4 linked regions of the Homo sapiens genome follow. The protein of the gene in region 3 interacts with the protein of the main gene of each other region in a pairwise test. Each region holds a gene or a part of one and is shown on either strand. Other genes may lie near its edges. The genes, in order: IQCB1, C11orf65, CALML3 and IQCN.

Region 1 (7,296 bases), on a different chromosome or scaffold from region 3:
ACATTTTTGCCAATCTGTTAGATGAAAATTGGTATGATTGTGTTTTAATTTGTATTTCTTTGATTATTAGGGATGTCAGGCACATTTCGTGTTCACTGGCCATTATTTCTTTTATGTATTTTCTATTCATATCCCTTGACTATATTTCTATCGGTTTGTCTTATTCTTTTGCAGAAGCTTTTCATACATGGATAGGAATCTTTTCTCTTTTATATTGGCTGTAAAATTTTCTCCTTGTCATTTATTTTTTTAAATTTGACTATGGGGTCTTTACCATAATTTTACAATTTTTTTTTTTTTTTTTGAGAGAGAGTCTGACTCTGTTTACCCTGGCTGCAGTGCAGTGGTGCAATCTCAGCTCACTGCATCCTCCACCTCCTGGGTTCAAGTGATTTCATGCCTCAGCCTCCCAAGTAGCTGGGATTACAGGCGTGTGCCAACGTGCCCAGCTAATTTTTGTATTTTTAGTAGAGATGGGGTTTCACCATGTTGGCCAGGCTGGTCTTGAACTCATGACCTCAAGTGGTCTGCCCACTTCGGCCTCCCAAAGTGCTGGGATTACAGGCATGAGCCACAGCGCCCAGCCATTTTTACAATTTTTACATATGAAATATAACAATCTTTTCCTCTATGGCATCTGTCTTTTGTGTCCTGTTTAGAAAGGTCCTCTCTAACCCAAGAGATAAAAAACATTCTCCAAATCTTCATGTTTTTTTGGTTTTGTTTTCCTTACATATCTTCTAAAGTAAGGTATTTTTGTGAATGGTGTCATATAAGAATCTAATTTTTAATGTTAAAGTTATTGATGGATTAAAAAATGCACACAGTAGTCATAAATTCATAAGGTAACTAGTTATGAATAGACATAACAGAAACAATCTGAAACGTCACATTTTCATGCACTATGTATACATACACATACACAGGGTATCTTTTTGGACTCTACTTAGTTTCTAGTAATTTAATCTGTTTGTCTATTCTTGAGCTAGTACAACATAGTTCATTTTAATATATGTTTGGAGAAAATTCACCTCAGAAGGTAAGCTTCATGAGGGCAACCTACCTATCCCTTAGAGATGATTAAATGAGTTAATACATGAAAGCAATTGGAACAATTCCTGGCACATAGTAAGAGCTCTCCAAATGGTTATTATTAAAGCCCAGTTCTACCATCATACTACATTTTAAGACCATCTTTGCTGGCTGCCTTCTTATATCTTTGGTTCACAACTGTATTCCCAGTGGCTAGACTAGTACCTGGCACGTACTAGGATTTGCTAAATACAGGTTGAAAGTATGAGTAAATGCACAAACCTCAGGCATTCTGAGCCTCAATTTCTTGACTTTCTGTTTTTCTCTTGTTACAATAGAGAAAGCTCAGATTTATAGTTGGAAGCCTCTCTAACGTAAAATAGGCTCAAAACAGTTTGTGCCCTCCTGGCTACCGTAATAAAACATCACTAAATCATTATTGTCATCAACAAATATGTGCAGAGCAGTATGGTAGATGCAGGGGATGCAAAGATTCTACACAAGACATACTCTCTGCTATTGTTCTGGTTGGGAAAGAAAAGTATGTTTATGTACATGTGTACACACACACAGATACAAAAAAATATACTTAAGAATATCAGATATATGTTAAATGCTAAATAGATGACACAGATAAGAATACAGGCCATAAAGTCAGAGGACTGGGCTTCTCTGAACCATTTTTCTTGCTGTAAACAAAATAGCAATTCCTACCTCCTAGAATGATTCTATTTAGAAGAGAAGGCAGCCACCAAGATGGTCTTAAAATGTAGTATAAGTGTAGAGCTGGGCCTTAAATAACCATTTGGAGACCTCTTATCATGCTCCAGGAATTGTTCTAATTGCTTTCATGTATTAACTCATTTAATCATTCCAACAACTCTAAGGAACAGATACTATTATTTTTTTCCCAATTTGAACAATGAGCATACTTAAACTCTGGAGAATGTAATTAGCTGGCACAAAGTCACACTGTTAAGTATAAAGCAGGGGTTCAAACTAGAGCCACCATCTGCCTTAAAGCATTTAACTACGATATGAAACAGCTTCGGCACACCTTCAAAGGGTAGGATTTACACAGACAGGTTGAAGGAGACATAACCACCTACCCCAAAATCAATTGACAAATGTGCCTAAGGCAGAAGGTGAGGGAGTGCAGTTGGATTGCGTAATTACCCTGAAAAACCACCTGTTATGGAAACCATCTGTAAACTTTCTCGAGTGTTTCTCCTATAATTCAACACTTCTCCCATCTTTACATTAAATTCATGAAATTTGACACAAAAAGACAATTATTTATCTATTTTAAGGCTACTACCCTGTTGCCAGGCCACCGGGTCCGGCCCAGCCTTGATTCTTCGGGAATCACTTCTCCCTCGCCGCGCCTGTTACTGCCTCCACGGATCACTGTGAGGAAAATAAATGAAAAGGAAATTCAGTGCGATCCTGTTGCGGCTGATCCTAAATGTCTGCAGTTGCTATCTCCGAATCCTCTTTCTCCTCCCCACTACACATCCCCTTCTCCAGTCCTAGGACCACAAGAAACTTCCTCTGGTACAAAAAGGTCAGAAAACGATTACTGAGGTAACAGCGTCGCTTCAAGTCTAAGGACCGAGATTCTGGGGCCTCTGGGCTCCTTTACTCCAGATTCTAGACCCGGCTTTCGCGCTACCAGGCCTTGGATAAGACACTAGGCCCTGTGCCTGGACACTGCACCTCCCCAGGCCTCAGTTTCCACACCAGATCTCTACAGAGTGGGCGTGAGGGCAGGCCGATTCTCCCGTTAAGAGCTCTTACAAGCCGGCTGACTTCGTCCAGGAGCCTGGGGTCCTGGCCTCCTGGTAGGCGCCCTGGGGCCCTCTCCCTCCCCAGCCACCACCTCAGATAAGTTACCTCATCCTCGCTTCGCGTTCTTCCACTAAAGAACCTGGGGCTCCCACGCCGCACTACAGCGCCGCGGCCTTCCGGGGCAGCGTGCGTCGCGACGCGGGAAGGGGCCTGGAGGCGGGACTAGGAGCCTCGGAGTCAAGGGGCGGAGCGCCCTTTGCTAATAAGCCAATCAGAACGTGAGACGCTCCGGTGGGGCGGTGCGCGTCGAGCGCGGGGTGGAGTCTGGGTGACTTGGCTGGCGGGATCAAGTGCAGCTGCTTCAGGCTGAGGTGGCAGATAGTGAGCGCTGGTGGCGGAGTTAAAGTCAAAGCAGGAGAGTAATTATGAATAGCGCAGCGGGATTCTCACACCTAGACCGTCGCGAGCGGGTTCTCAAGTTAGGGGAGAGTTTCGAGAAGCAGCCGCGCTGCGCCTTCCACACTGTGCGCTGTGAGTGAGGACCATCCGGGGATAGAGGGGGAGCCTCCCGGGATGGGGGTGAAGAGGCACAAACCCCTCTGGGTTTTGTTCCCACAGTACCCCTTACACTGTTGGAGACTACGGGGCGGGGAGGGGGGAGGCAGCGCGATCCTCTAACCTGCTCGGAGTCTTAGGGGGTCGGTGGAAGGAATCGGAGTAGAGCAAATGTGGGTAAACCCTGGACAGAGAGCGTTGAGACCAGCAGACAGGAAGGGAAAGTGTGAAAAAAGTCTGTAGAGGTGACTGTGGAGACAGACGTGACAGGTGGATGATGCAGGGGTGGACAGGAAAATAATAAGGTGACAAATGGGAAGGGACTAAGGACCGAATGCCGGGGAACTTGAATGCCTTGAGGCTGGTGGGGCAATATTCTCTCTTTTCATCACTTTTTCTCACCTCTGGCAGATGAGGGTTCTTATTTGGTGTGTTCTTTGCAAAGGGAGAAATTCTCAACCATCCCAATGATCTGTATATCTCTTTGGACCCCAGATTTCACTCAGTTATCAAATACTGATTATCAAAGTATTCGAGGGTGTGTTATTAATTTCTTTATTTGGAAGATGCTTACCTCCCTATGATTTCTACCCTTTGGTTTTCTTTATGTCCTCTGGAACTAGTTTTAATAAATTATTCTCTTTTATGTTGTTGGAGTAGAAAAAGGAGCTCTTTTGCTTTAGCAGTTGGATGATATAGATTCCAGGAAGGAAAATATAGCATATAAGTTTTTATGTGTAAGACATTCGTTTTTTGCATAACAACTGTCATAGAATTGTAGAGCGGGAAGGAAACTTCAAGATCACTGAATTATAACTTCTCATTTTTCTGTGGTAAAACTGTAAGTATTTTTTCACTTCCTTTCCCCAGCCTTGCCCTTCCTTAATATCTCATCATTCCGCCTTTCTCAGTCATTCTGTTCTCGGGTTGTTTAGAGACCTTTATGGTTTTTACTCTGAAATGTTCCATGGTTCAATCAAAACAACTAATTAAAGCATACATTCTCCCAAAAGTTTATTTAAGTTGTAGACAATTTAGTTATAGTTACTCAAAGTAAAGGTATGAAGAACCACTGGTTTTAACCCTGCAAGAATATATTTACTAAAAGGGTTTTTTTAAAGCAAAATTAACATCCAATTGGTAGAATAAATGGGTGAGATATTTGTGAACAGAAACTCTTCAACAGTGTCCCTTGTTTATTCTTCTTTATCATATACTTTCTCATCCAGAGCTCCCCACGATGAGATGGTGCTGTGCTGGCTCTGCAGTTTCTCTCTCTTCAGTCCCATTTTCCGGAAGTGTGATATGCGTCTTTATCTGGTTTTTCCATGCCTTTTTCTCAAATAGTATCTACTCTCTCCTTTTCTCTTCCTTCTCAGGTATGCAATAGTCTTAATATTAATTTTTCAAGTTACAAGGGCTTAAGATTATAAAAATTTGCTTAAGAATATATTTCTATATGATTTGGGTATATATTCTCTTATGTAGGGCACAAATCCCAATTTAAATGAATAAAAAATTGCCTTTGAAAATAATCTTGCAGGTCCTTCACAGCCTTTCATTTATAAAGGTTCTGAAAATGCCAGTATCTTGAAAGTCAGAGGATCAGATGATCCAGCTACCAGAATGAAAATAAACAAAAATAAGCAAAACAACAATAATGACAATAATAAATAAACAAACATACATGTTTGAATACACACTTAGTCCTGTGGAAGACAGAACTATTAGAAAAGTTTTCAGTCCTTATTTTCTTTTATTGTTGTTGTTGAAGCAGGTGTGGTAATGGCACAGAATCATTTTAGATTTATTTAAATAAAACTGTTTATTATTCTTGAGGACAGGTTCATTTCCAATGTAATCCTCACTCTTAAGAACTCAGAGTGAGGTTTGAAAATTGTAGAATAGTATGAAGCTGATGTTCATGCAGATAAGGGGGACCTAATTTATAACCAACCCTCAAGCCAATGTCATTGGAGAGAAAGTAATATTCTGCCTTTATTTACAGGAGCAATTCTGCCTGTCTGATATAAGACTTCAGGCAAACCCGGATGTGAATCCTGGTCTCCACCACCTATATATATAATGTGACTTTGGGAACATTCTCTAAGCTCTCAACCTCAGTTTTCTTATGGCTAAAAGATAATAGTAATATTTACATTTCATGGTTTGTGTAAGGATTAAATAAGATAGCATAAACAACCTGGAACAATATTTGCCACAGGGTAGAGAATAAATAGTAGTCACCATTAATGTTGAAGAGTTATATTCATATGTGTACGAGGGGTGCTAATGAATGTAATTTAGTCAGACTTTGAAACAGCATTTATCAGAGTTTAGCAATAAAAACTATCAAAAAGATAGTCTGGCATGTGGTAGGAAGGGCATGGGATGTTCTATCAACGATAAGCTGAATGCTTAGCAACAGGTGCTTTACCGGGTAGAAGAGTTTCAATAACAGGACCTACTAGAATCAATTTTGAATTGGGAGTAGTACTAGTTTTACTATTTATATCCAGATAAGGCAATGAATTGTGAAATCCTAAGTTTGTAAATGACACCACTTTTTTGTGTCCTTAAATGATGAGCTAATGAGCAGTGTGGGTTTTGGAGTTGGTTGAATTCATTCAAATCCCGGAAAATAAACTGATGATAATAATTGTGGATTCTTATGAAAATATTGGCATTATGTGATGTTACAGTTAAAATAATCAGAAAAGCGATAAACATTGGCAGAAAAGGTATTAAATACAAAGTAGAAAATGGTTTTCTACTCTTCATGCAATATAATAAGTAATTCCATTGTAAACCTGAAAAAATTGCATAGATGAAAGAAATCCAGAGAGAATAAATAAATGGTAAAGTTGGTGGTAGGGTTTCCAAACCAAGGAGAACTGAGAAATGAACTATTTAGTCTGGAATCATAGCAACTTGGAAGAGAATATGTTTGACATTTAGAAGCATACAGAAAGTATGAATATGAGATTAATCAGCAAATTCTTTAATTCTGGAACTCAACCACTTGAAACTCGGAAGTTATATACTTTTAAAAAAGTGTGTGAGGACAAAAGACAACACTGCTTGATATAATGGGTAATAAAGAGTAGAGTTTATTAATCCTAACAGTAGAATAATTAGAAATGTAAATAGATTCAGAATAGTTTTGGCAGATTTATTGATTATGAATTCATGTTTATCATTAAGTAAAGCTAAAGATATTTTGCATACATTTGTCTCTTGCAGATAATCTCATATACTATAGGCATCTATGTAGTCTTCAGGGACCTGTGAACCCCTTGGGATTGTACAGTATTTGATATGTATGTTCATATATGTATTTTTCTGTGGAGAGGATCAATGATTGGTCTATAATTTTCATCAGGTTTTCATAGGGATGGATTTATGATTGTCTCTCATCTCCTAATACTGCTCCCCATACACATACATACAAGTTAAGATCTGTGGATGTAAGACAAACAGGCTATATAATATGAGGAGATAAATTATGTGGCTTGAGTTCCTGACTTCATCATTTATTGACTTCATTACTTTAGAGGAGTTCTCCATTAGTAAAAGGTGGGCAAAATGTTCAACCCAAAATTTTTTTTGTGAAGATTAAAATTGATAGTATATTGTAAAGAAAAAAATCACTTCATAAACACTAAAACAGAGGTTATAGATTAATAGCATATAGGCTGAGCTTGACTTTAGAAGTGCTTTGTTTGGTCCACACCATTGTTGTTTTATCTTGAGTTAGTTGCAAATACCTAACATTCAGGACCTTTTATATAAAAAATCTAGATTTTCAGCTTATCTTTAAAAATCAGATGATAAGCTGGCAACATTGATCCCATATCTTCTCTTGGCAGCAGTTGGGTGGAGCAGAGTTATGAGATTGGGTTTATTCATCCTCCGTGTGAC
Region 2 (7,028 bases), on a different chromosome or scaffold from region 3:
CGACACCACACCCAGCTAATTTTTGTATTTTTAGTAGAGACAGGGTTTCACCATGTTGGCCAGGCTGGCTTTGGAACTCCTGACCTCAAACAATCCACCCTCCTCGGCTTCCCAAAGTGTTGGGATTACAGGTGTGAGCCACCACGCCCGGCCCAGAATTTTAAACATGGATTTTTAAATTTAACAATAGCTAATTAGGAAAGGTCATCTACTGTTGAATTTAGGTTGATCAGTCATAATTTTTTCTTTGAATTTACCTGCAAGATAATATTTTATATGTAATATTTGAGGAGTTATTTAAAAGTTAAGTTTTATGACTAAAAAATTACTTGGCTTTTATGTTTATATATTGCATAAAAAGGAAACAGTTTGGTATCATTTTTTCATTTACCATAGATGTCCATAAGAAATTAAGTCCTTTTAGTGGGTGCAGCGCACCAGCATGGCACATGTATACCTATGTAACTAACCTGCACATTGTGCACATGTACCCTAAAACTTAAAGTGTAATAATAAAATAATAATAATAATAATAATAATAATAATAAAAAGAAATTAAGTCCTTAGCTCATAAAATATTTTCTTTTCTTTTCTTTTTTTTTTTTTTTTTTTTTGAGACAGAGTCTTGCTCTGTCGCCCAGGCTGGAGTGCAGTGGGGCGATCTTGGCTCACTGCAAACTCTGCCTCCTGGGTTCGTGCCATTCTCCTGCCTCAGCCTCCTGAGTAGCTGAGACTACAGGTGCCTGCCACCATGCCTAGCTAATTTTTTGTATTTTTAGTAGAGACGGGGTTTCACCGTGGTCTCGATCTCCTGACCTCATTATCCACCCACCTCGGCCTCCCAAAGTTCTGGGATTACAGGCGTGAGCCACCATGCCCGGCCTCATAAAATATTTTCTAATTACAAAAAAAAAATTTTTTTTAATGGCTGAGCACAGTGGCTCATGCCTGTAATCTTAGCACTTTGGGAGGCCAAGACAGGAGTATCACTTGAGGCCAAGAATTCGAGACCAGCTTGGCAACATAGGAAGACTCTTGTCTCTACAAAAAAAAAAAAAAATACAAAATTAGCCAGGCATGGTGGTGCACACCTGTAGTCTCAGCTATCTGGGAGGCTGAGATGGGAGCATCGCTTGAGCCCAGGAGGTTAAGGCTGCAGTGAGCTGAGATCATGCCACCGCACTCCAGCCTGGGCAACAGAGTGAAATCCCATCTCAAAAAAATTTTTTTAACAATTTTTCTAATTTAAAATTGATTATTTGAGGTTGGTTCACCTGACTGATTTCCTAAATAGTCAATATTTAGCAATTATTTAAAATAATAGAGTGAGAAATAGTGAATTGATACATACAGAATCCTGAAGAATAATATATAAGAATAATATATTTTCTTATAGGCAGAGCTTCTAGATGCTGCTGCTGGCATTCATGTGCGATTCAGATTAGGTGGAGTAAGTATGGATGAATGCTTATTTAGTAGTTATAAAGCACATTTTTATGAAATTGAAACAATGTAATTTTTCAAAATGTAAAACATTTTTGTAGTTACATTACAATGGCTCTTTGAACTTTTCCTTCTACAGGTTAAATTTCCACCTGATATATACTATAAGATTTTTACTCACAGACCTATTGAAGATCTCTGTGCTAACAGCCCTAGAAATTATGCAAAACTTCCAGCAAAGCATACATCTCATAATAAAAATGATCATCTTCAGGAAGAGGATCATAGTGGCTGGTATCATCGTATAGAAAACAATGGCTGGAGGCCAGTTTCTGATACAGTAAGAAAAGAGAAATGTTAATTTTTAACCTTACGTATTTAGAAACCCATTTGTCTTTTCAAAAATTAATTTTAAAATTATTTTTTAAAATAATAAATCCTAGTAATTTAATTGATAAATTTTGCTTAAGTTAGCTACTCAGGGGTTGCTAATAATACTTCAAGGCACAGCAATTTATCTTTTTCTTACTACATTTATTTCTACTTTTAATTATCAGCTTTGAATCTAGACCATCTTTAGATACTCTCTGGTACTCAGCAGATTATATACCCAGTATACGGATTGTAGAATTTGGTATGTTGAATATATTAACACTAAGTATGACCAGGCTCTGTGGCTCATGCCTGTAATCCCAGCACTTTGAGCTGAGATGGCACCACTGCACTTCAGCCTGGGCGACAGAGTGAGACTCTGTCTCAAAAAACAAACTAACAACAACAACAAAAACAAACACAAAAGAATATACCAAGTATGAAAAGTGAAAATGATCAAGGTATGAATTCATTCATTTGTTTAATAATAAACTATTGCATATCAACCATATACCAGACATTGTTCTGGATGCAGGGGATAGACTTAAGTAGTTTGCCTTTCAATTAGGGAGACAGTCAAGTAAACAGGATATTTCAGTACAGTGTGGTAAACATGTTAAGTGGTTTAATAAGGGCAAATATATAGTGTTTGGAAGGATTAACAAACTTTCCTTATTATCTAGGGTATGTGTGATAGAGCAGGGGGAATGAGTTGGAAGGGGGAAAATAGACAACCAGTTAGGAGAAAATGTCATAACGGGGAAACCACAAAGTCTTAGGACATGGTACAGGGACTTCTGCATTCCTGAAGGGTGGCTGTACTCCTTGAGGATTAGAGTCATCAAAAGCCATCAGCACTAAGAGTAGGTCAGGTCTATTCATGTGAGAAGATGAGACACTCTTAGAATATATCTGTTTATTTATCCATTCAACACTTATTAAGCACCTCAGTACACTAGTACTTTGTTGATCTATCTGTAGCATGTGCTTCTGAAGGCTGAGTGTACTACTCACCCATCACTTAATTAGAAATACCTTGAAAGTATCTATCCTCTCCTCTGTTTCTATCTTGCCATATTCCTACTGAACACATAGAAGTTCTTGTCTATTGCCAGATAACCTCACAATCGATATTTCAACATTTTGTATGTTCATTTTTGTTTCTCAATAGTTTTGGCTATCTACTGATGGTATGGTGGTGGAAGACAAAAAGGAAAGTGAATTCCATTTCTCTAAACTGAAGAGAAGGCAAGATTTGGAAAAGAAAAGAAAACTTAGAAAAATAGAGTGGATGAGGCAAATGTAAGTTGATGAAACACTTACTAAGGAAATACGTAGTATTTTGGGAAAAAAACAAATTTGAAATGAGGTATTGCTCCTCACAAGAGGGCATTAGCTGCAGGGGGTCTGCCCGCAGACCCTGACCCAAACGACAGATGAATAAAACGCACACTGACACACAGATATTCTGTTTTGCCAGTCCTGCTGAGTGTCCAACCGCCTACACACCAAGAGAGGCTTGTCACTGCAGCTGGCCCCAATCAGCTAGGGAGACTCATATTTATTCATTAAGATTAGTTAACAAAAGTTTGAGTGAACGCCATTAGAGGCTAACTGACATTGTGGACTTCCCGAGTAAAAAGCACACATCAAAGGCTTGTCTTAAGACCGCATGAGTAAACAAGCTAACTAGGTAAAACTTCGCCACATCCCGTTGTTTACTACTTTAATCTTTTTAACTAAAGTTAATGGGACCAGGCCGCCTTCGGCCCGGTCTGTTACCGAGGTCATGTGAAAACCCTCAGGCCTTCCAAAAAGGTTTTGTGGCCATCATAACTAATATTTTTCCCAGCAGCCTGATCGAATCCCAACATTGGAGAACTATACTACTTGATTTCAAGACTTATAAAGCTACTGTAATCATGACATTGTGGTATTGGCATATAGACAGAAATATAGGTCAATGGAACAGAATATGGAATTGTGAAATAAACCCCCATGTGGCCGGGCGCGGTGGCTCACGCCTGTAATCCCAGCACTTTGGGAGGCTGAGGCAGGCAGATCACGAGATCGGGAGATTGAGACCATCCTCGCTAACATGGTGAAACCCCGTCTCTAGTTAAAAATCCAAAAAAAAAAAAAAAGAAAAGAAAAAATTAGCCGGGCTTGGTGGCAGGCGCCTGTAGTCCCAGCTACTTGGGAGGCTGAGGCAGGAGAATGGCGTGAACCCAGGAGGCGGAGCTTGCAGTGAGCAGAGATCGCACCACTGCACTCCAGCCTGGGTGACAGAGCGAGACTCCATCTCGAAACAAACACAAAAAAAAGTATCAAAGACAGAAAGTGGAAGTTACAAGGCTTTTTAAGGCCTTATCTTGGAAGTCACAGCAACATTTATTTTGCATTCCATTGGTCAAACTCAAGTCCTAACAGGCCTAAGGGGGTCAAGTAAAAGGTGGGACTCACAGGAAGTTCCATATACATTACAGCTTCACTTGCAGTACAGAGGGGAAGGGAAATCCTACTGGGACAGAACCTCAAGTAGCATACCTGGTTGTATATTGTGCCTGAAAGAAAAGATGGCCAGAAGTATAGATCTATAGATGGATGGTGATTGATGGATGGTTTGACTGGATGGTCAGGGATTTGGAAAGAACATGGTTAGAAAATTGGTGACAAGTGGTCTGGGGAAGAGGTATGTGCAGACTTCTCCAGATGGGCACCAAGTGAGAAGATGCTTGTGTCGTATGTGAATGCTCACCAAAGAACAATCTCAACAGAGAAGAATCTTAATAATCAGGTGAGCAAGATGACTCATTCCTTGGAATCAGTCAGCCTTTCCCCCCAGCCACTGCTATCCTCGCACTATCCAGCCTGGGCGACAGAGCGAGACTCCGTCTCAAAAAAATAAATAAATAAACCCCCATGTATATTGTTAATTAATTTTCAACAGAGGTGCCAAGGGAACTTAATTGGGAAAAAATAGTCTTTTCAACAAATTGGATTTTCAAATGCAGAAAAATGAAACTTGAGTGTTCTCTTACAGCATGTGTAAAATTAACTGAAAAGAGATTATAGATCTAAATATAAGAGCAAAAACCATAAAGCATCTAAAAGTAATTGAAGGAGAAAATCTTAGTGCCTTTTGTTCTGGCCAAGATTTTTTAAAGAGGACATAGAAGTCAGGAACTATAAAAGAAACAATTTTAAATTTTACTTTATCAAAATTAAAAGCCATAGACCGGGATAAAACATTTGCAAAATATATATCTGACAAAGTTCTTGAATCAAGAATATGTAAAAAAAAAAAAAACAAAAAAAAAACCTCTCAAACAATCACATTTTAAAGTGGGCAAAAAATTTGAATAAACACTCCATCAGTGAAGATACATACCTAGCAAATTAGCATAACTCAACCAGTGACTATGATTAATCATTAGAGAAGTGCTAACTAAAATGATAATGAGATACCCCTACACACCCACTAGAATGACTGAAATAGTCTGTCATGCCAATTGTTGGCAAGGATATGGAGCAAATGCAAATTAGAATGTGTACTTCAGAAAACGGTTTGACAAGTTTTTTTTTAAACAAGTAAACACACCAAATATTCTACCTAGTCATTCCACCCCTACATGCTTACCCAAGAGAAATAAAAACATGTCCACAGAAAGATTGTATGTGAATGTTCATAGCTGGTTTATTTGTCATTTTAATTGCGAAAAACCAGAAACAGCACAAATTTGCATCAGCAGGTGAATGGATAAGCAAGTGGTAGGATATCTACACAAAGGAATACTACGCAGCAGTACAACAGAATGAACTACTGATAGACAGAATGACATGGACGAACCTCAAAATAATGCCGAATGAAATAAATCTATCAAAAAAGAATACATACTGTATGATTCCATTCACATACAATTCTAGAAGACACAAATCTGAAGTGACACAAATCAGATCAGTAGTTGTCTGGAGATAGGAAAGAGGAAAAAGAGAGGGATTCCAAAGGAGTACAAGGAAACGTCAGAGGGTGATGGATAGATTTATTTTTTATTGTAGTGATGGATTTACAGGTATATAGACATGTCAAAACTGTACATTGTACAATTTAAATATGTGTAGTTTATTGTACATCAACCATACCTCAATAAAATAGTAAAAAAAAAAAAAATTAAAAACCTGTGCAGAAAATCAGAAGACCTCCCTGGCAGCTCTGAAGTGGTCCTTTATCTCATAGTCACAGCATGGGTTGAGGGCAACCCTGGGTTCCATTGCAAGGGTCACAGGGTTACAATGCCTACAGTACTACCAAATGCTTAACTCTGCCAGGTCTTTTGCACTAAGATAAGGGCACTAGTGGGGAAGAAGTAGAACTCTGAGGCCTGGGATTAGGACATTTGGGCAAACATACACAAGGCTAAGAATCTTGAACTTCCAAAGTGCCTTGTTGGTGTAGGGAACCCTTACTCTCCCTTTTGAGGGAAGCGGCCCTTTTCTGCATAAAAGCCTTTCAGTGACTGCACTGGCACAGTTGCCACACACACTTAAGCTGATTCTCCTCAGGATTCCCCCTCTACTATTTCTCATTGCCTTTAGCTCACAATGAGATTTGTATTTCAGGACAGCCCAGACAGAGGTACAAGGTCCACTCCAAGAGGAGATAGTTTATAAACCAGAACAGTTACAAGAAATTACTAATCTACATTGCCAGGAATCTCAGAAGCATTGTGTGAGGGTGGATTCTAAGGTTGTTAGATCGAGAGTTGGCTGGGCCGAACTTACTGATATGGCCATACTCACCTGGGATTGTGGATTTAATGCTTTGGCCAGAAATTATGTTAATGGTCTGTTAAGTTAGCTAATCAAAGCCTGATTTAGGTAGAGCCAACCAAAGTTCTACCTTTGCAAAATGCTGGAACTTCTCTGGTATACTGTAGTGTAGCAGGATTGATAAGGAATCAGAGAGACCGATGGGGTAGAGGAGGATATTTGTTATTTTAGGTGTACTGGCCCAGTCGGATTAACATCCAAAGGACTGAGCCCTGAACAAAGAGTTAAGTTACCTTTTAAGCATTTCATGGGGTTGGGGGAGATCTGTGCAGGGGGAAGCATATTACAGAAGCAAGAAACAAAGATAGTTATTCAATTAATTGAGAAGTGCATTACATCGTTTCTTACTTTTCAAGGAAAACATGTTTTATGACTTGAGTTTA
Region 3 (6,558 bases):
ATCCTTTCACTCCTCCCACCCTCCACCCTCCAGTAAGCCCCAGTGTGTGTTGTGTTCATGTGTTCTCATCATTTAACTCCCACTTATAAGTGAGAACACGCAGTATCTGGTTCCTGCATTAGTTTGAAAGAATAATGGACTCCAGCTCCATCTCTGTCCCTGCAAAGGACATGATCTCGTTCTTTCTTATGGCTGCATAGTATTCCATGGTGTATACGTACCACACTTTCTTTATCAGTCTATCATTGATGGGCATTTGGTTAATTCTATGACTTTGTTATTATGAACAGTGCTGCAATGAACATACGCGTGCATGTGTCTTTATAATAGAGCAATTTATATTTCTTTGGGTATGTACCCAGTAATGGGATTGCTGAAAAATATGGTTTTATGTGAACAAGTAATGGGTTTATTTCTATTAAGTTATAAATATATAAAAATATACTTAAATATTTAAATATTTCTTGGTTTTAGTTGCAAACACAGTATATATATATATATATATATATCCCACATAAACACAAGCTCTTTGGAGTCCCCAATAATTTTTAAATGTTTAAATGTATCCTGAGACCAAAATAATATCTATTCTGTAGGGAAAGGAGTTGCTATATTGGGGTGAGAGGCTGCAGGGAGAGAGTTAAACAGAAAATAAAAAACATTCCCTCTGTCACAGTTTCCCAACCAGCGAGTTGCAACAGTATGGCCCATCGTAAGGCGGTCCTGGTCCTCTGTGAGTCACTTTGCACTAAGCAACGCTGTTTAAAATTCTGAGTCCTCTTTTTTTTTGAGACAGGGTCTTGCTCTGTCTCCCAGGCTGGAGTGCAGTGGCACGATCTTGGCTCACTGCAACCTCTCCCTCCCTGGTTCAAGTGATTCTTCTGCCTCAGCCTCCCAAGTAGCTGTAGCTGGGATTACAGGCACCACCCACCATGCCTGGCCAATTTTTGTACTTTTAGTAGAGACCTTTAGTAGAGGTTTCACCATGTCAGCCAGGCTGGTCTCGAACTCCTGACCTCAAGTTCAGGCCTGCCTCGGCCTCCCAAAGTGGTAGGATTATGGGTGTGAGCCACTGCACCTGGCACTGAGTCCTCTTTCAGTGTGCCTTTTTGAGAAGGACATTTAGGTAAAAGCTAATGTTTGAGCCACAGAGCCATGACCCAGAAACCAGCAGTTACCTGTTGGCTTCTCATCCTGGTCGTTGGTCAAGTGGGCAGGAGGTATGACCGTATTCCTGTCCTTGTCCATCAGGGCACTGTCTCAGGCCAGGTTTCCCCCTGATGCCATCCGGGGCTCTCCAGAAGACTGTGTCAGCCACATGTCCGAATCCCTTGGTGCTCCTGTCTCCTGTGACTGTCCCTGTATTCCTTCATGAAGAAGTCTCTCCAGCCCCTAGGCAGGGAAAGTAGAAGAAAAATGCTTCATAGCATCTTTTCCACTAGATGGTCACTCTGGCAGTCAAATAGGGGGTGTGGTTATTGGCTATTAATTATTCTGCTTTTCTATACATAATAATAGCTATGCTCACCATAGTCTCATATCTCTGAGAGATATAAAGCTGACAATATTACCAGGCCCTCCACATTACCTAACCTCAGAGAAAGAGAAAGAATATTGGGAGTTCAGTAAGATATGGAATATTTTTTATCAGGGATGGTTTTTGAATCTTCAGTCATTTCCCCTAATAATAGAAATGATATATGGCAAATATAAAACATTTTTAAATGAGCAAAGATACTACATTTATAAGAAAATTAAAAGCACTTATAATCCTATTATCCAAAGTATCCACTATTAAGAGTTTGGTACATGATTATCTAGGCGTTTCTTCTGTGAATGTATATAAATAAACATATATAAATGTTTAATACATGAAATCATATCACATATACAGTTTTCTATCTGCTTTTTAAAAATTTTCCATGGAAACCTTTCCATTGTTATATCCTCATCCTCATTTTAAAGGCTGTGTATTATTTCATGGTGTGGAGGAAATTTCAGGTATTTGTTACTAACCTGCTATTTTTGGGTATTCGGGTGATCTAGAGCGGAGATATTTAAATATTTTTAAAGTGCGTTTGGGATATGAATTCTAACACTCAGGCATCAGGCACCAGTGTACAATCAAGAGCCCTTCTCAGAAGGTGACAGAAGGTCCCCATGTCCCAGAATTAGCCCCCAAAAAACCCCAAAATAAAAAAGGGACCTTGATCCCCAGCTGAACTTTTCATGGGGTGACCTTGAGCAAGCTGTGTGTGCAGCCTTTGCTGGGTCTCCCCACCACAAAAGAGATCTCCAGAATATTCGAGGAAGGGCGGGGCTCCCAGGAGCAAAGCACACACTCTTTCTTGCGCAGCCCCCTGTGGACAGAGCTGTAACCTGGGCCCAGGGCATGCTCCCAGCCTGCAAATGGAGATGCTGCCTCATTTTTCTCTCTAAATCTAAACTTTATTATCAGCCCCTCTCCTACCCCAGGGAGTCCTGGCCAGCCCATCTCCCCACTCCCCTAGAGCTGTTGGGGTGTGAGGTCTCAGGCAAGGCCGAATATTCTGGGGTGAGAAAGGAGGGGAGGGTGGGATCTGGTCACCAAAGTGTCACCCACACACGTGGCTTCCAAGATGCCCATCACCTCGTTCCCTCCACGCCACCCCTGGGCCCCAGGGCTCTTTGCCAAGGCTGCCTGTGGCCACCACATCCCTGAGCCCTGCTGCTCTGGGGTCCACAAACTTCTCTTCTAAGGAAAAGATTCCATGGGGATGGAGGGATTCTTCAACCTTCCTGCTTCCTCCTGCCCAAACCCTCAGGACACAGGCTTTGTGGGAGCCCTCAGGTAGGAAGGAAGGTGTCTTGCAGGTGGCTTCAATTTTCCCCCTACCACAGACCCCCTCCAGACCAGAAGGACACACTTGCCTCTACTTGAATAGAGAAGGGAAGGAAAATCAGAGAGAAAAAAAATGAATATCCGAGCCCTTCTCCTGCCATAGTCTCTCCTCGGCAAGTCCAGGTCCTCAAAAGGACACTTTCTTTCCCTTTCCGGTCTCTACCCCACCCCCACACACCCAGCAAAAAATAGAGTGGGCTCCATGTTTCTCCCCCAGTGTGGATTTCTTGGATTCCCACAGGTGAAGCGCCTGCTCCTGCCTCTCTGGGGGTCATGTCTCCAGGCCCCCTGGGAGTGGGAGCCGAGTCTGTGCTGTGAACACCCCACTATCCCCCTAAGCGGGTCTCCTCTGGGAGAGGCCGCTCCACAGCCCCAGCTCCATGCTGCCCGGAGCTCCTGGGGCAATGTGGACCAGAGAATGATAGTGGGACTTCCTGGCTGAGCCCTTCAAGGTCTCCTTTGTCTCTCCTCCTTGTCCCCTCCCTCACAGGCCTGCAGCCCCACTGATCATCTTCCAGCCCTTGGCCCTGCCATGGCCACTCCGGCCTAGACAGCTGCTTCTCAGCAGGAGGTCTGTCCTTGACCAGGCTGAAAGGTGACCTCGGGGTCCTGTCCATCACCACCTTGTATGTCCATCAGCATTTATCAATAATCCCTAGTCACCTTGTTTGCATTCCTCGATCAGTTGACCTGCAAACTAGCTGTCTTGCTAGTTAACCTCACGAGGACTGGGGGTGGCTTGCCGGTCCCACTGTGTTCCCAGCTTCCAGAGTGACACTGCACCTAGTAGGCACTCAAATATCTGTGAAAGGGTGGATGAGTGAATGGGTTGGAGGAAACCCCTCCCTATTCATGTCCATTCTGAAGATAAGAAAACTCGCTGCTTCTACCTGAAGGGAAAACCTTCCTCCTCCAAAAACCCTCCTGTTCTATATGAGGCTTTAGAAACCAAAGGCAAGGACGTTTCTTTCATCTGCCTTTCATCCTGCAAAAAGCCCTCCACTCAAGGGAAGAAAGGGCACTGGAGTTTATTGAGTGGGAGACAGGCGGCAGGTGGGAGACGGGGAGGGAGGAGAGAAAGGGAAATTCAGGAGGAAGGAGTCCAGCGTGGATTGCTCCAAAGCTCACCCACCACGCCCTGACTGCAGGTGTGATTCGGGGCCCCCGTGGCTCTGCTGGGTCCAGGTGCAAGCAGGCACAGAGGTGCTGGCGTCAGCTCGATTCGCAGGCCCTGGACTCCTGTCTAAACAGGACAGGCCCGGGCAACCGCAGGGCAGGGGCGTCTGCCAATGATGGGGGAGGACTCTGCTGCTTCTTAAGCTCCAGCGTCTCAAGCCAGGGCGAGACAGCCCGCCGGCCGCCCGGATCTCCACCTGCCACCCCAGAGCTGGGACAGCAGCCGGGCTGCGGCACTGGGAGGGAGACCCCACAGTGGCCTCTTCTGCCACCCACGCCCCCACCCCTGGCATGGCCGACCAGCTGACTGAGGAGCAGGTCACAGAATTCAAGGAGGCCTTCTCCCTGTTTGACAAGGATGGGGACGGCTGCATCACCACCCGCGAGCTGGGCACGGTCATGCGGTCCCTGGGCCAGAACCCCACGGAGGCCGAGCTGCGGGACATGATGAGTGAGATCGACCGGGACGGCAACGGCACCGTGGACTTCCCCGAGTTCCTGGGCATGATGGCCAGGAAGATGAAGGACACGGACAACGAGGAGGAGATCCGCGAGGCCTTCCGCGTGTTCGACAAGGACGGCAACGGCTTCGTCAGCGCCGCCGAGCTGCGACACGTCATGACCCGGCTGGGGGAGAAGCTGAGTGACGAGGAGGTGGACGAGATGATCCGGGCCGCGGACACGGACGGAGACGGACAGGTGAACTACGAGGAGTTTGTCCGTGTGCTGGTGTCCAAGTGAGGCCGGCGCCCACCATGCTCCTGGGCGCCCACGCGGCCCACAGGGCAAGAACCCGGGGCCTCCCGCCTCCTCCCCCATCCCCCTGCCTCCCCTGGGCACTGTGGCTTCCTCCTGCGCCTGGTTGATTCAGCCCACCTCTCTGCATCCCGCTTCCCGCGTCTCTTCTCTGCACTCCTGCCGACCTTCCCACCTGCTCGTCTGAATGACACGGAACGCTCCCACTGCAGGCAAACCGTGACGCCCTCCCCACTCGGGAGAAGCAGAGCTGACCTTAGGACCGAGCACCAGGGCAGGTTGCGCTGACTCTGCGGCCCTCCAGGACGGACACCGGGTGACCCCTTAGGGCACCCAGGCAAGATCCCTAAGAGGCACCCAATGCCCAGGCCAGGGGGGCTGCAGCCCTCAGCCCCCGCCAGGATTCCCGCAGGCTCCTGGACTGGAAGCTCCCTCCGCGGTCGGATTCTGGAGGGTGGGAGGCATCTTGGCCTGCAGTAAGCGGTGCTGACGGGGACTCTGGCCACAGAGGTCAGGCCTCCTGAAAACAGCACTGCCTTCCGCGCTGCCCCAGCTTGCCCCATTCCTTGTCCGCCAACCCACCGTGATTCATCTTCTGAAGCTGGGAGTGAAACTGGGTCAGCTGTAACCTGTTCCTATTCATCTGGAAGGAGGGAGGCTTGGATGAGCAGGGGATGAGAGCTGCAGGGAAATAAATGAGATATTCGTCCTTATTTCATTTCCTTTTTTTTTTTGGTTTCCATGGAAATGATCCTTGTTAAATTCAGGGTTGAAACGAGGCAGGAATCTCCATTTTTGTGCTTTTTGAAAATGCAATGAATTCCTATACGGGGGAGCGGGAAAGGTGCCTCAGAGAGAGACAAGTCTGGATGAGGGAAATATTGAATATTCTCAATCAAATGGATACGCTGGCAGCAAAGAGTGGTTAAAAGTCCATCAGGACTTGAAAGACCTGAGTCCATTACGTTGAGAAGGGACCTGCTGATTGCTTTGATTCCCCCTGGCAAGTGCTCCCTGGTTGTGAAGTGCCAGGCACTAGAGATGGTGAGGGGTTGGGGGGCAGTTGGGCACACACAGTGTAAGAGCAATTCAGAGCCGTTAGTCCTGCACTAGCCCTGCAAGCTGCTGGCAACACCTAGAGAAGGTCGAAGGGGCCCTGCCAGAGATCCCTTCAATTCTAAAGGGAGGTATGTTTTGCGGGATGGGCACTAGACGGAGCTCATCAGAAAAGGCCATGGTGGATGTATCCTCTCTCCCTGACACCCCACCCCCGCCCACCAACACCCAGTGTTTCCTCCTTTGTAAAACAAAGAGCTGGGCCCCAGCCCCGGCCTTGCCATCATCACTGCACCACTGGGACCTCCAGGATGACAGGACCCTCATGCCACCTGCTTGGGCTCAGGGCACCATCAAGCACTTGGCCTGCATAGACAATTGGCACCTCCCTATGGGGCAGCCACTATTATTACCTTCCTCATCTTACAAACGAGGAAGTGGAGACACAGAGGGCTTTAGAAAGCAGCCCTGGGTCCCACCAGTGGGTAAGAGGCAGACCTGGGATTTCAGTCAGGTCTGTGCCCTGACCACTCAGCTACAGGTCTGACACCAACCTGTGCCTCCATCATGGTAACTACGGTAGCGCCTCTCTCCAGCACTTGTGAGGAGCCAGAACAACATTCTTAACACACCTGGCATGTAGTAGGTGCTTAATAATGGCAGCTACTGTTACCATCACCTTCAAGATC
Region 4 (7,043 bases), on a different chromosome or scaffold from region 3:
ATACCATTGCACACCAGCCTGGGTGACTGAGCGAAACTCAGTTCAAAAAAAAAAAAAAAAGATAAAAGGAAACTCTATGTGGTACTTTAGGGCTGAGGGAGTATCCCCAAAAAAGGGGCAAATTTGGAGAGCATTCAGACTTCCTTGGAGAAAGTATGGTCCCGCCTAACAAGTTAACGGAGATAATTGCTGGATCGGCCAAGCCAGAGCTGGTCTGGAGTTGCAAAACAAGCAAAAGGCCCACCCTCCAGGGTGCAGATGTGGGAACAGGTTATCAACAGTTGGTGCTCTGGATGTGCACTGGAAACCTAAGTGTTGCTGGGGCAGGAGGCCTTCAATGTGTATGGGCCACCGTGGGGGCTCTGTTCGTTTATTATCATTTATTTATTTATGATTTTTGAGACAGAGTCTCACTCTGTCCCCCAGGCTGGAGTGCAGCGGCACTCAGCATCTTGGCTCACTGCAACCTCCGCCTCCTGGGTTCAAGCGATTCTCCTGCCTCAGCCTCCCGAGTAGCTGGGATTACAGGCATGAATCCCACCACACCCAGCTAATTTTGTTTGTTTTGTTTTGTTTTGTTTTTGGAGGGACGGGGTTTCACCATGTTGGCCAGGCTGGTCTCAAACTCCTGATCTCAGGTGATTCGCCTGCCTCGGCCTCCCAAAGTGCTGGGATTACAGGCGTGAGCCACCGCGCCTGGCCTTTTTTTTTTTCTCTCTCTCTTTTGAGTTTTGTTCTTGTCGCCCAGGCTGGAGTGCAGTGGCGCGATCTCCTTTCACTGCAACCTCTACCTCTCGGTTTCCAGCGATTCTCCTACCTCAGCCTCCTGAGCAGCTGGGATTACAGGCACCTGCCACCACGCCTAGCAAATTTTTGTATTTTTAGTACAGATGGGGTTTCATCATATTGGTCAGGCTGGTCTCAAATTCCTGACCACAGGTGATCCACCCACCTTGGCCTCCCAAAGTGCTGGGATTACAGGCATGAGCCACCGCGCCCGGCCTTAGGGGCTCTGTTTTTTGTGTGTGTTGAGAGGGCTGCAGAAAGGTTTTCACCAGGTCAAGACTGCAAAGTCACAGGACCACGTTCTGGATCCAGGGCTCGGGCAGGCTTCACCTGGTGTCTTCACACCTCTATCCCTAATGCCTCACCAGCGCCCTCTATTGAGAAATCTTAGCATTGTGCTCACTTTTTTTTTTTTTTTGAGACGGAGTCTCGTTCTGTCTCCCAGGCTGGAGTGCACTGGCACCATCTCGGCTCACTGCAAGCTCTGCCTCCCGGGTTCACGCCATTCTCCTGCCTCAGCCTCCTGAGTAGCTGGGACTACAGGCGCCTGCCACCACGCCCAGTTAATATTTTGTATTTTTAGTAGAGACGGGGTTTCACTATGCTAGCCAGGATGGTCTCCATCTCCTGACCTCGTGATTCGCCCACCTCGGCCTCCCAAAGTGCTGGGATTACAGGCGTGAGCCACCGCGCCTGGCCGAGCATTGTGCTCACTTTAAACAAGACATAACGAAAGAAATTCCTTTGTTTATCACATATTGAAAGGGTCCATTCGGAGACAAGAGGCAATGCATGGATAATTGACACACATATATTTATTATTTTTATTTTTTTGAGATGGACGGAATCTTGCTCTGTTGCCCAGGCTGAAGTGCAGTGGCACGATCTTGGCTCACTGCAACCTCCGCCTCCCAGGTTCAAAGTGATTCTCCTGTCTCAGCCTCCCGAGTAGCTGGGATTACAGGCACTTGCCACCACACTTGGCTAACTTTTGTATTTTTAGTAGAGTTGGGGTTTCGCCATGTTGGCCAGACTGGTCTCGAACCCCTGACCTCAAGTGATCCGCCCGCCTCGGCCTCCCAAAGTGCTGGGATTACAGGCATGAGTCACCATGCCCGGCCTAATTATTATTATTATTCTCTTTGAGACGGAATTTCACTTTTGTTGCCCAGGCTGGAGTGCAATGGCGCCATCTTGGCTCACTGCAACCTCTGCCTCCAGGTTCAAGCGATTCTCCTGCCTCAGCCTCCCAAATAGCTAGGATTACAGGCATGCGCCACCACACCTAATTTCGTATTTTTAGTGGAAATGGGGTTTCTCCATGTTGGTCAGGCTGGTCTTGAACTCCTGATCACAGGTGATCTGCCCGCCTTGGCTTCCCAAAGTGCTGGCGTTACAGGCGTGAGCCACCTTGCCCGGCCTAATTTTTGAATTTTTAGTAGAGATGGGGTTTGACCATATGGGTCAGGCTGGTCTCGAACTCCTGAGGCAGGAAAATCACTTGAACCCGGGAGACAGCAGCTCTGGGAGCTGAATGGGCCCATTCCAGGGGCTGAGGTTTCATCAACCAAACGGTGCAGCTCTTTAGAGGAACTCAACCAGAAGGGGTGAGAAACGGGATTGTGGGGGATGAGAAGAAGGAACAGGGGCCCCCTGGACACAGAAGCCAAGCGACTGGCTCGGTAATTTTGAGTAAACCCCTCTGAGCCTCAATTTCCCTATCTGTCACAAGACATAAGATCACCATCCTCAGGTTGCCAAAGAGACACAACAGGCTCAGCTGGGCGCAGTGGCTCCTGCCCGTAATCCAAGCACTTTGGGGGACCAAGGTGGGAGGATCGCTGCAGCCCAAGAGTTTGAAAACAGCCTGGGCAACATGTCTCTATTTATTTAAAAAAATAATAATAAAGAGACATAACAGGCTCTCCATGATGTCCCCCATCACAGGTGAACAAATCCACCATCAAGGCTTTAGAGGTCCCTAGAGCCCCTGCTGTGAGGGGCCAAGGAGCTGACCCATCATTTGCAGTCACCCAGAAGGCCCAGAAGGGCTCTAAAGGCACTGGGGGCCAGAGGAGAACGACAGGGTCCCCCACGAACCCTCGCAAACAAGTCCTCCACCAGCCCCACTCACCCGCCCCTGAAGCCACCAGCCCCACTCACCCGCCCCCAAAGCCACCAGCCCCACTCACCTGCCCCTGAAGCTAAACCTAGCAGTCTGAACGGCCAGTCTTGGAGCCCTGGTGCCGCAGCAGCTTTGTGACTCAAAGCCAAGTTCTGGCCAATCCCTGGCAGCTCTTAGGGGGTGGGGATTCTAGAAGGCACAGCCAGAGGTTGGGGAACAGGATGCAGGGCAGGGCCAAAGGTCATGGTGGTTGCTACCTACACCGGCTCATCCTGAGTACAAAGGGTTCTCAGCACAGAGGGAACCCCAAATCTCCCCCTCCATGTACCTAGAGGCAGTTTCAGTCTTTCATCCCACGGGCATTTTCTGAGCACCTACTATATGCTGGAATTTGCCCCATGTCTGGGGATACAAACAACTCAAAGAATTTGAGGCTGTAAAATGGCTAGATGGGAAGGGACCAAAAAGGGGGTGCAACGGGCCAGTCAGGGTTCTCACTGATGTCTTGGGTGTGGCTCTGAGACTGCGGGCTCCTTGGGGTGGGGCCGGACTTGATCTCTTGGGATCCCCACTGGGCCCGGCAAAAGTGGGTACTGACCCTGAGCCGCAGCGCTATAAGGGGAAGTCAGGCTGCTGTCCTGGATCACCTCCTGGGGCTGGGCTGGGGCCCAGCATGAGTCACCGCTGGCTGGGCCAAGGCTGACACGCACCTTGGACTCAGTGCAGCTGGCTCCAGCCAAAGCCAGCCTGGCCCAGAAGCCTCTGCCTGGCTTCCTTGGGGAGCCGCTGGGGGTTGCCGGGACAAGAACCAGCAGGGGTGCCTGACCTCCCTCTGCAGCGATCACCCCCTCCAAAACCTTCCCTATACTGTGGGTGTGACTTTGGACAAAATCAGGGACATGGCAGATGGCAGTTGGGTGGGGTTTATATCCTTTGTCTGTTTTTTGAGATTGAGTCTCGCTCTGTTGCCCAGGCTGGAGTGCAGTGCTACGATCTCAGCTCACTGCAACCTCCACCTCCCCGGGTTCAAGCGATTCTCGTGCCTCAGCCTCCTGAGTAGCTGGGACTACAGGTGCATGCTATGACGCCCAGCTGATTTATGTAGTTTTAGTAGAGATAGGATTTCACCATGTTGGCCAGGCTGGTCTCAAACTCCTGACCACAAGTGATCCGCCTGCTGCGGCCTCCCAAAGTGCTGGGATTACAGGCATGAGCCACTGCACCCAGCTCATCCTTTGGATGTTTCATCAGAACAGGTCCCTTCTGTGCTGTCAACGAGCTAAACACAAACTGGGAGTTCTCAGGGCAATTGGAGACCGTAGGAGCCCAGTAAGGTGCTGGCCTAGCCTGAGGGTTACTAGGGACAGGCTTCCGAGGACTGTGCAGCTGAGGCTGGGAGGTGGCGCTCAGCTGCATGACTGGGGGAAGAGTAGCTGGCACAGAACTACAGCTGCAGCCGTGCAAAGACCCTGAGGCCAGGAAGGCAGGATATTGGGAATTTGGGTGGAGAGGCTCCTGAAAGGAGACACTGGCCAGCCCAGGGACTGGTGCAGTCAGGACTTTTTCCAAAAAGGTTTCAAGTAAGGAGTCAGATCTGTGATTTAGAAAAAGCCCTTCACATCACAGCTCATGCCTGCTTGACTCCCCCATCAGACTGGAGGGCTGGCCTCAACTAGGTGTCAATAAATGCTGGGGACGCTGGGCGCGATGGTTCATGCCTATAATCCCAGCACTTTGGGAGGCCAAGGCGGGCAGATCGATTGAGCCCAGGAGTTTGAGACCAGCCTGACCAATATGGCAAAACCTCGTCTCTACTAATAATACAAAAATTAGTCAGGCATGATGGCAAATGCCTGTAATCCCAGCTACTTTGGTGGCTGAGGCAGGAGAGTCACTTGAACCCAGGAGGTGGAGGCTACAGTGAGCCAAGATTGCACCACTGCACTCCAGCCTGAATGAGAGACCCTGACTCAAAAAAAAAAAAAAAAAAAAAAAAAAAAAAGAGGCCGAGTACAGTGGCTCAATACCTGTAGTCCCAGCATTTTGGGAGACCGAGGTTGGAGGATCACTTGAACACAGGAGTTCAAAACCAGCCTGGGCAACATAGATCCCATCTCTACAAAAAAATTATTTAAAAATTAGTAGGGCGGCTGGGCGTGGTGGCTCACGCCTGTAATCCCAGCACTTTGGGAGGCCAAGGCTGGCGGATCATGAGGTCAGGTGATCGAGATCAACCTGGCTAACACGGTGAAAGCCCATCTCTATTAAAAACACAAAAAAATTAGCCAGGCATGGTGGCAGGCGCCTGTAGTCCCAGCTACTCAGGAGGCTGAGGCAGGAGAATGGCGTGAACCTGGGAGGCGGAGCTTGCAATGAGCCGAGATGGCGCCACTGCACTCCAGCCTGGGCGGCAGAGCAAGACTCCGTCTCAAAGAAAAAATAAAAATAAAAATTAGTAGGGCATGGTGGCGTGCACCTGTGGTCCCAGCTACTTGGGAGGCTGAGGTGAGGCAGGACAATCAGTTGAGCCTAGGAGGTCAAGGCTGCAGTGAGCTGTGGTCTTGCCACTGCACTCTGGCCAAGGCAAGAGCGAGACCTCATCTTGTAAAGAAAAAAAAAAACAAACTTGTGGGGCCCAGTGGCTCACGCCTGTAATCCCAGCACTTTGGGAAGCCAAGGTGGGTGGATCACCTGAGGTCAGGAGTTCGAGACCAGCCTGGGCAACATGGTGAAACCCTGTCTCTACTAAAAATACAAAAAAAAATTTAGCCAGGCAGGGTGGCTCACGCCTGTAATCCCAGAAACTTTGGGAAGCTGAGGCGGGCAGATCACGAGGTCAGGAGATCGAGACCATCCTGGCTAACACGGTGAAACCCCGTCTCTACTAAAAACACAAAAAAATTAGCCGGGCATAGTGGCGGGCGCCTGCAGTCCCAGCTACTCAGGAGGCTGAGGCAGGAGAATGGCATGAACCAGGGAGGCAGAGCTTGCAGTGAGCTGAGATCGCGCCACCGCACTCCAGCCTGGGAGACAGAACGAGACTCCGTCTCAAAAAAAAAAATTTAGCTGGGCATGGTGGCAGACACCTGTAATCCCAGCTAATCAAGAGGCTGAGGCAAGAGAATCGATTGAAACTGGGAGGTGGAGGTTGCGGTAAGCCAAGATCAGGCCATTGCACTCCAGCCTGGGCGACAAGAGGAAGACTCAGTCTCAAAAAAAAAAAAGAAAAACAAAGTACGTCCTCCACCTCTCTGCAGGGCTCCTCAGAGTCCTTTCGCCTTAGACCACTTGGGGGCAGGCAAGCAAGAGACCTGGGTTTGAATCGCTGCTCTGCCATTTAACAGGGGTGTTGGCCGGGCACGGTGGCTCACGCCTGTAATCCCAGCACTTCGGGAGGCCGAGGCGGGCGGATCATGAGGTCAGGGGATCAAGACCATCCTGGCTAACACGGTGAAACCCCATCTCTACTAAAAGTACAAAAAATTAGCCAGGCGTGGTGGCGGGCGCCTGTATTCCCAGCTACTCAGGAGGCTGAGGCAGGAGAATGGCATGAACCCAGGAGGCGAAGCTTGCAGTGAGCCGAGACTGCGCCACTGCACTCCAGCCTGGGAGACAGAGCGAGACTCTGTCTCAAAAAAAAAAAAAAAAAAAAACAGGGGTGTTGGGCAAGTCTCAAAACCTCCCTTCCCCTTCTCTACTAATTGGGGGCCACAGTAGGTACCATCATTGAGTGCGGTCACTGTTGTCCGTCCCCTGAGCACCTCCCAGTTCTGACTTCTGACCTGAGAGATGTTATGCTGGATGCAAACACCCGCATCTCACAGCACAGGATGTAGAGGCCATCGGGGGAGGAGGACTCGCCTGAGATCTCACAAATGCCAACTGGAACCTAAGCTGGGTCCCGGTCTCCCAACCAGTGACACTCTGCCCGAGATGTGGTTCTTGGTCTCTTGTGTGTCAAGACACCCCTGCTCTCCCACCTCAGCCTCAGTTCCCTTCAGCAGGTTCCTTCAGGCCCTGCTGAAACGTCTGCATGACCTCCCACAAGGCAACGTGACAGCTAAAAACCAAACCCTGGCCGGACGTGGGGGCTCACGCCTGTAATCCCAGCACTTTGGGAGGCCGAGGCGGG

Evidence for each region.
Region 1: the proteins of CALML3 (region 3) and IQCB1 interact in binary tests that used the Homo sapiens proteins (3 or more experiments, as listed by UniProt).
Region 2: the proteins of CALML3 (region 3) and C11orf65 interact in binary tests that used the Homo sapiens proteins (3 or more experiments, as listed by UniProt).
Region 4: the proteins of CALML3 (region 3) and IQCN interact in binary tests that used the Homo sapiens proteins (3 or more experiments, as listed by UniProt).

The regions. Positions count from the first base shown.
Region 1 is NC_000003.12:121,832,041-121,839,336, forward strand, and holds the start of IQCB1 (IQ calmodulin-binding motif-containing protein 1), read right to left. Parts: upstream 3,021-7,296; 5' UTR 2,926-3,020; intron 2,440-2,925; 5' UTR 2,351-2,439; intron 1-2,350. Other genes in the region: EAF2 (ELL-associated factor 2), read left to right, coding at 4,616-4,754. UniProt on the Homo sapiens protein: Involved in ciliogenesis. The function in an early step in cilia formation depends on its association with CEP290/NPHP6.
Region 2 is NC_000011.10:108,401,518-108,408,545, reverse strand, and holds part of C11orf65 (protein MFI), read left to right. Parts: intron 1-1,396; coding exon 1,397-1,450; intron 1,451-1,582; coding exon 1,583-1,783; intron 1,784-2,986; coding exon 2,987-3,117; intron 3,118-7,028. UniProt on the Homo sapiens protein: Acts as an inhibitor of mitochondrial fission. Interacts with MFF and prevents DNM1L recruitment to mitochondria, promoting a more fused mitochondrial network.
Region 3 is NC_000010.11:5,520,738-5,527,295, forward strand, and holds CALML3 (calmodulin-like protein 3), read left to right. Parts: upstream 1-4,223; 5' UTR 4,224-4,348; coding exon 4,349-4,798; 3' UTR 4,799-6,034; downstream 6,035-6,558. UniProt on the Homo sapiens protein: May function as a specific light chain of unconventional myosin-10 (MYO10), also enhances MYO10 translation, possibly by acting as a chaperone for the emerging MYO10 heavy chain protein.
Region 4 is NC_000019.10:18,271,425-18,278,467, forward strand, and holds the start of IQCN (IQ domain-containing protein N), read right to left. Parts: upstream 3,029-7,043; 5' UTR 2,979-3,028; intron 1-2,978. UniProt on the Homo sapiens protein: Essential for spermiogenesis and fertilization. May be required for manchette assembly in elongating spermatids.